Linked DNA regions of Homo sapiens. The protein of the gene in region 1 purifies or fractionates together with the protein of each later gene. This does not show direct contact. Each region holds a gene or a part of one and is shown on either strand. Other genes may lie near its edges.

Region 1 (3,746 bases):
TGCCCTTGGGGACCGGGCCGGCCTTATCAAAGGCCTCCTTCAGGAGCTGGCTCTTCTCCAGGCCGAAGACATGACGGGGAGCAGGCCCTGTGGCAGCGGGTGGAGGAGGCAGTGGGAGCGGTGGGGGAACAGGGGTCTGCTGACTCCAGGGAGGGGATGGTAAAGCTGAAAAGTCCAGGGGACTTGGGGGTAGAGGAGGAGATGGAATGCTGCTGGCTTGGGGTACAGGGGTTTTTGGAGGAGAAATTGGTGGTTTTAGGGGAGGAGAGCATGGAGAAGTCATTTTGGGGTCTACAGGAGGTGTTGAGAGGTTCAGAAAGCGGGGAGGGAAGGATCCTCCAACGGAGAACGGTCTCAGGGATGGAGATTTTAAAGGTTTAAGAGCTGAGTTCCAGAATCTGGGGACTGAGCAGTGGGTGTGAAAGGACCAGGGCTAATATTTGAAACCACGGGAGCAGGAATTGCGAGGCTGACTCAAGTCATAAGGCACCTGACGGTTAACAGGGTGGGGTCCTTAAATCCGGAACCGGATCTGTGGTACCGGTTGGGTTACCTCGGGAGTCTTAGGTGGAGAGTTAGTAGGAGTTAACTCATTCTTTGGGGCTGGATGTGGAAACTCATGAGTGAGTTTGGGATATGAAGGCTCAGATCTAGAGTGAGGTGCCTTAAGGATGCGACTTAGGGACCCAGGGCTAAAGATTCGGAGAACTTAGGTTCAGTACCCCCTCACATCCCAGGCCCGAGTTCGGAACCTTTGAGCTGACCTTTGAGTCAGAGGTCAAGAGGTCAAAAAGGACACCTGGCAGGGAAAATGGCCTAGTTGTGGAGAAGGTCCTGGAACCAGAGCAACAAAAAACGTCTGTGGGTTGGAGAAGACTCAGAGATCAGAGGCCGGTGGGCGCCGCGATAACCACTGGAAAAAGGAAAGGAGTCAGGAAGTAAAGTGCACCTCCCACTCCCGGAAAATGGCGGCCCCCGCACACTGCCTTTCCCATATCACGTGGTATTACACGCAACAGTTCCCGCCCATTTTGCGATCACGTGACAGAAAACGCAGCTCTGGCGGGGGTAAGAGGCGGGACTCCAAAAAGGATTGCCTCCGGAAGACACCGCAGCGCGAGACGCGTACAGACTCGTGACCTTCACTGATTGGTCCGTAGACCCGGGCGCCACGGAAGGAGGTGGGCTTTCAGGGAGTGGGGCGGGGTTTTTCTACCTAGGCGGGAACCCAAATATCGTTTTGATTGGCAACAGCTGAGCCCAGAAACGAGACTTGCTCTGATTGGTCAAGCTACTGCGTTTCCGCGCGGCGATTGGCTGGCAGAAAGGCAGAGGCGGGGCCAGGAGAGAAAGCTTTGTGGTTTGGTCTCAGGGAAGTAGCAGGCGCCGGTTGAGAGAACTACGGCCCTGTCGGAAGGTAACCTCCGGTGCAAACGACCATCGGCGGCAGGCGAGCGGTACGCTTGGCGTCCGGGCCTTCCTGGGCCCGTCTGAGGAAACTTGCTGCTCGAGGCCAGGCTGCCTAGGACCTGTCCCTTTTTTCTATACTGGCTCCCACATCCGGGTTTTTTCTCCGGGACGGCCCTTCGGATGCTTGGGCCAATGGGAATCGCCATTTAGGGTGCTCCGCCCACCGGGTCGCGTAGAGCATCCTGGAAGTCGTAGTAAATCTCTCGAGAGTTCTCTCCGCACGCGGGCTGGAGAAGCGGGTCCTACGCACGCTTTGTTGTCGCGCTTTGCCTCCGTCCTTGCCCCTACTCCCGCCTTACCTGACTTCCTTTTCGGAGGAAGATCCTTGAGCAGCCGACGTTGGGACAAAGGATTTGGAGAAACCCAGGGCTAAAGTCACGTTTTTCCTCCTTTAAGACTTACCTCAACACTTCACTCCATGGCAGTTCCCGAGACCCGCCCTAACCACACTATTTATATCAACAACCTCAATGAGAAGATCAAGAAGGATGGTGAGTTCTCGGGATAGTCCGGAGTCCAGACTGTCCCGCACGGGCTGGCCCCTCTTCCGTCCCCTGCACCCGCCTCTCTTTCTAAGTGTTTGTCCAGCCAAACTTCGAGTTAACTCCTTGGCCTTTACACAAACTACTTCCTGTCTTCAACACTCCATTAGTTCATCTTACACTCTGCCCTTTAACGTGGTCACTGCTGCTCATCTTACAAGGTTTGAGGTCACAGGACCCTTCCTCCAGGAAGCCTTGCCTTGTCCCTTCACGTGGCTGCCGCTGACTTGCCGTACGCTGAGACCATCTCCCATCAAGCCCTGATTCCTCTGAGCTGTCGTGGGGCTCTCTCTCCTCCCAGTGGCCTTTGAACTCCGTGAGGGCAAGGACTGGGGCTTTCTTGGTCACCGGCTTTTTCAGTGATCAGCCCACAATGAACATGTACCATAATGGTGGCTAACGCTCTGTATCATGGGCTGGTCTGTGTGCTTTCATATAAATCTTGATAACATTTAATTCTCACAACAATCTTGTAGGAAGAAGGCTATTGTTATTCCCATTCGTCAACTAAGAAACTGGGGCCGGGCGCGGTGGCTCACCCCTGTAATCAATCCCAGCACTTTGGGAGGCCGAGGCGGGCGGATCACCTGAGGTCGGGAGTTCGAGACCAGCCTGACCGACATGGAGAAACCCTTTCTCTACTGAAAATACAAAATTAGCCGGGCATGGTGGCGCATGCCTATAATCCCAGCTACTCGGGAGGCTGAGGCAGGAGAATTGCTTGAACCCAGGAGACGGAGGTTGCAGTGAGCCGAGATTGCGCCATTGAACTACAGCCTGGGCAACAAGAGCGAAACTCCGTCTCAAAAAAAAAAGAAAGAAAAGAAAAAGAAACTGAGACAGGGGTGATGTGACTTGCCCAGGGTCACATAGCAAGTAAAGTGGTTGAGGCCACCCGTATAGAATTCTGCTTAGGAACCCAATTTTTGGCCGGGCGTGGTGGTTCAGGCCTGTAAGCCCAACACTTTGGGAGGCTGAGGCAGGAGGATCACTGAAACACAGGAGTTCAAGATCAGCCTAGGCGACAAAGCCAGACCTTTTCTCTACAAAAAAAAAAAAAAAAAAAAAAAAGGCTGGGCGTGGGTGGGGTGCGTCTGTGGTCCCAGCTACTTGGGAGGCTGAAGTGGGAGGATCGCTTGAGCTAGAGAGGTTGAGGCTGCAGTGAGCTATGATTGCACCACTGCACTGCTGCCTGGGCTGAGCAAGAACCTATCTGAAAAAAGGAAAAAAAAAAAGAACTCAATTATTGAAATCGGAAAGACTCTCTCACATTCTCAAGTAAATTATCACCTTTATTGAACCTCATTTTCCAGATCTAAAAACTGAGCAAAATCATAATACCTTTTTTGCATGGATGTTGGGGGAGATTAAATTAGCTAAACCTTGCAGTATTTCTTTTTTATGGTAACTGGCAGCTAGTAAAGGGCTGGATAAATGTTAGCTCTTATCACTTCAAGAAAATTATCGGGAGAACCGAAGGAGCTTGTTGGGATTCAGTTTGAGGTTACCAGTGAAGTTGCTGTTGAAGAAAGCAAAACCAGCAGCCGGGCACTGGCTCACGCCTGTAATCTCAGCACTTTGGGAGGCTGAGGTGGGCAGATCATTTGAGGTCAGGAGTTCAAGACCAGTCTGGCCAAGATGGTGAAACCCCGTCTCTACTGAAAATACAAAAATCAGCTGGATGTGGCGGTGCGCACCTACAGTCCCAGCTACTCGGGAGGCTGAGCAGGAGAA
Region 2 (3,746 bases), on another chromosome or scaffold:
CGCAACATTAAGCAAGATCTCCCCGCCCCCCGCCCCCCAAAAAATTGAAGTATACAAAACCTAACCATTTTGGTCAAACGACAAGAGAAATATGGCTCCTAAAAAAATTGTAATGAATGTAAGTCAAAAGTTTTAACTAATTAGCCCATATCTAAGAATTATTCACCAATAATAATAACCTCAAAAAGAATTTTCATTTAATAAGTTCTATATTGGAACTGTATAAGCTAATAATTTTCCTGTGATTTTGGGACTCAATATTTCTTACTGCTTCTGGTCTCAATCTATTAAGAGTGAAAGTTTTTGACAGCATAGCACAAAGCAGTAATTTCTAATGACCAAGGGCTTATCTCCTGCAGCAAAATCCAGTTCCAAAACAAAGCCTTCTCATGTCACACACCTAACAACTAGGACAGGAGCCCTCAATTCAGGTGGTTAAGAATTATTATCACCTGAAATTAATGTTTTTCAGTTGTGTTATCACACTATAAAATTTAAGTTGCTAAAATTTCCCTCAAAGGAAAGCAGCTGCCACTAAACTCCTCTGAAGCTACCCCTTCTCTCTTCCTTTTTTCGTCTTTAAGTTTTCCCACAGGTATTAAACACACCACCTCTTGACATGGTTTAAGTTGGCTGGGTTTTTCTTCCAATGTTTCATCCTAAAGGGGAGAGGTTCCAATGTTCTAGCCATAATCACTACTAACAAAACTACTGATGCCCAAATACCATGGTCAAGTCTGCTAATAATACTTTTTGGAATTAAAAAGTATTTTTGATCTTGCAAAGTAATGGATACAATTCTTTGCATGTTGGGAAGTGGCATGGATACACACCACTTCATCACATTAGTGCTTTCTAAGTACTCCTTCCCCTCAATTACCCTCCAATCTCCAGTTACATCTATTTTTAAATTCTAGAACACAGCGATCGCTCAGGTTAACACAAAAAACTAAATCAGTTCACCTCTTATTTAAAAAGTAGTTACGAAACAAGCAACTTACGTACATTTTGTAAGTATCTGAAGATGAGGTTCTGCACCACAGTGGCTAAGGAAAAAATACAAAAGCAGCATAGACTCTGCTTCCTGAAACAACCGGACGACGCTATTCCCGTCTCACCTTTGTTTACTAAACGCGAGGTCTGGTGCTTACGCAAACAACAAGTGCCCAGCTGGGCATTCGTTACGGGTCTTCTAAAGACTAAAGAACATCCATTCCACTTTCATCCCCCTGGAGTTTCCCAAAACCGTTAACTCCCGTTTTCACTCCGCACCTGAAGTTCTCTTCCCTCCTTTTGCCGCGTCCATTCCTGCATTCCCCACGGCAGGGGTCCCCCCAAGACCACCTCCCCACCATCACGGTTCAACTACCCGCGCTTTCTTCCAGTCTTGGTAGCCCCGGGGGCTCATGGGATGTGGATCCGTACTCCACTATCCCAGGCCTGCCCTCAGCCTGCGCCTTCGCACCCCGTATTCTGACCCGAACCTCCTAGTCCTGACATCCTGCGTAGGATACGATGGGCTGCACCATAACCTTCTGCACTTTCTGACCCTGGCCACGGTACGCCATGGTGGAATTTCACAAAGAGCACACCCGCACGCTGCCTCTGAGAGCAACTTCCGGAATAAAGAACCGGAAGCGGAAGTGTGAAGGTCACGCGGCGGCATGGGCGGCTCCTGGGAAATGCCCCTCTAGCCATGAAGTCACGTTTCTTCGCTGCATGGCCTCCGAGGGAGGCCAAACTGAGGCGTCTGCGCTGTGGAAGGTGGGCCGGTCCTACAGCGCCACCTGGAGGGAGGCGGGAGGAGGTGCCTTCGGTTGTATAGTGGCCGTGGTAGGAGGAGTGCCGTCCTGTCTCCAATTTCTTTTCTTTTTTTTTTTTTGAGGCGAAGTCTCGCTCTGTCGCCCAGGCTGGAGTGCAGTGGCGCGATTTCAGCTCACTGCAACCTCAGCCTCCAGGGTTCAAGCGATTCTCCTGCCTCAGCCTCCCGAGTAGCTGGGACTACAGGCGCCTGCCACCACGTCCGACTAATTTTTTGTGTTTTTAGTAGAGACGGGGTTTCACCATGTTGGCCAGGATGGTCTCGATCTCCTGACCTCATGATCCGCCCGCCTCGGCCTCCCAAAGTGCTGGGATTACAGGCGTAAGCCACCGCGCCCGGCCTGTATCTCCATTTTCTGAGTTAGCTTGAAAAGCCAAAATCGTCCCAGTGTGTATCTCTATGTGTAAAATGAGTTAATTTCGTGCCTTTCCTAAAGCCTATTTTGCTGGAGTTTAGGCTTGATAGCAGCGTTGTGGTGGAAAGGGTAGGGCGGCAAGGAGCCCAAACTTCAGGCCTCCCACCTCTGGCAGTCGGCCAGAGGCGGTCTGCATTCCAAAGCCAGACGCCTGGTTCCCTCCAGTTACGGATTCAATTCTCATCCATTTCGTGGAGAGTTACTGTTCAGGTGGCAACTGAGGGTGGCGATTTACCAGGAAGACGCTGAAATCCACATGCTGGGCGCAAATCCAGCTCTTTTAGAGTTGGTGACCAAGGATAAATTACTCAGCCTCGCCATGTCTTGGCTTAGTTTCCAAAACGGAGATTATAGTAAAGATTAACTTTACTCAGGGGCTTAAAGATTCAATGAAATAATTGTCTATGTGTGCACACAGTTAGGCGTCAGCCAGTGTCAGAACATGTCCTTCCCTGGATAACACAGCTACTAAGTGGAGCAGCTGGAATTTGTAGGTGTGCCTGACCCCAAAGTCCACCTACCTTTCCATTGTGTCATGGCTTGTGGCCTGGCAGAGATTTCACTTAATTGGCATACACATGTTATAGAGGAGGAAACTGAAGTTTAGACTTTTGAAAGGACTTGCCTAAGGGAACACGGATTAGGGCAAATGGCAGAATCAAAATTAGCTTTTCTGAGGGCTTCTGTTTAATGGGGATAATAGTAATAACGACTTCAGAAAGGGGTTGAGTTGAAAGTGATTTTTAAACTACACAAAGCGGCCAGGCTCACGCCTGTAATCCCAGCATTTTGGGAGGCCGAGGCAGGTGGATCAACTGAGGTCAGGAGTTCGAGACCAGCCTGGGCAACATGGTGAAACCTTGTCTCTACTAAAAATACAAAAATTAGCCATGCATGGTAGCACATGCCTGTAATCCCAGCTACTTGGGAGACTGAGACAGGAGAATCACTTGAACCCAGGAGGCAGAGGTTGCAGTGAGCCGAGATCATGCCACTGCACTCCAGCCTTGGTGACGGAGCGAGACTCCGTCTCAAAAAAATAAATAAGAATAAATAAATAAATAAACTACACAAAGCTGGCAAATGCATGGGATAACTATTTCCTTTAAAAAATTTCAGCCAGGGCTGGGCACAGTGGCTCATGCCTGTAAATCCCAGCACTTTGGGAGGCTGAGGCAGGCAGATCACAAGGTCAGGAGTTTGAGACCAGCCTGGCCAATATGGTGAAACCCCGTCTCTATTAAAAATACAAAAATTAGCTGGGCGTAGTGGTAGGCGCCTGTAGTCCCATCTACTCAGGAGGCTGAGGCAGGAGAATTGCTTGAATCTGGGAGGCAGAGGTTGCAGTGAGCCGAGATCGCGCCACTGCACTCCAGCCTGGGTGACAGAGCAAGACTCTGTCTCAAAGAAAAAAAAAAAAAAATTTCAGCCAGGTGCGCGAGCTCATGCCTGTAATCCCAGCATTTTGAGAAGCAGAAGCAGGAGGCTTGCTCGAACCCAGGAGTTCAA

What was found. Proteins that work in one complex are often made in the same cells at the same time.
Region 2: the proteins of SNRPA (region 1) and SNRPE purify together in Homo sapiens (co-immunoprecipitation; 5 studies listed by BioGRID and IntAct, with this or other methods). This does not show direct contact.

Annotation. Positions count from the first base shown.
Region 1 is NC_000019.10:40,749,521-40,753,266, forward strand, and holds the start of SNRPA (U1 small nuclear ribonucleoprotein A), read left to right. Parts: upstream 1-1,682; 5' UTR 1,683-1,888; coding exon 1,889-1,961; intron 1,962-3,746. Other genes in the region: ACTMAP (actin maturation protease), read right to left, coding at 1-283. UniProt on the Homo sapiens protein: Component of the spliceosomal U1 snRNP, which is essential for recognition of the pre-mRNA 5' splice-site and the subsequent assembly of the spliceosome. U1 snRNP is the first snRNP to interact with pre-mRNA.
Region 2 is NC_000001.11:203,859,482-203,863,227, reverse strand, and holds the start of SNRPE (small nuclear ribonucleoprotein E), read right to left. Parts: upstream 1,630-3,746; 5' UTR 1,569-1,629; coding exon 1,515-1,568; exon of another isoform or gene 1,501-1,514; coding exon of another isoform or gene 1,485-1,500; intron 1,382-1,484; exon of another isoform or gene 1,315-1,381; coding exon of another isoform or gene 1,273-1,314; intron 1,047-1,272; coding exon of another isoform or gene 1,033-1,046; coding exon 1,006-1,032; intron 1-1,005. UniProt on the Homo sapiens protein: Plays a role in pre-mRNA splicing as a core component of the spliceosomal U1, U2, U4 and U5 small nuclear ribonucleoproteins (snRNPs), the building blocks of the spliceosome.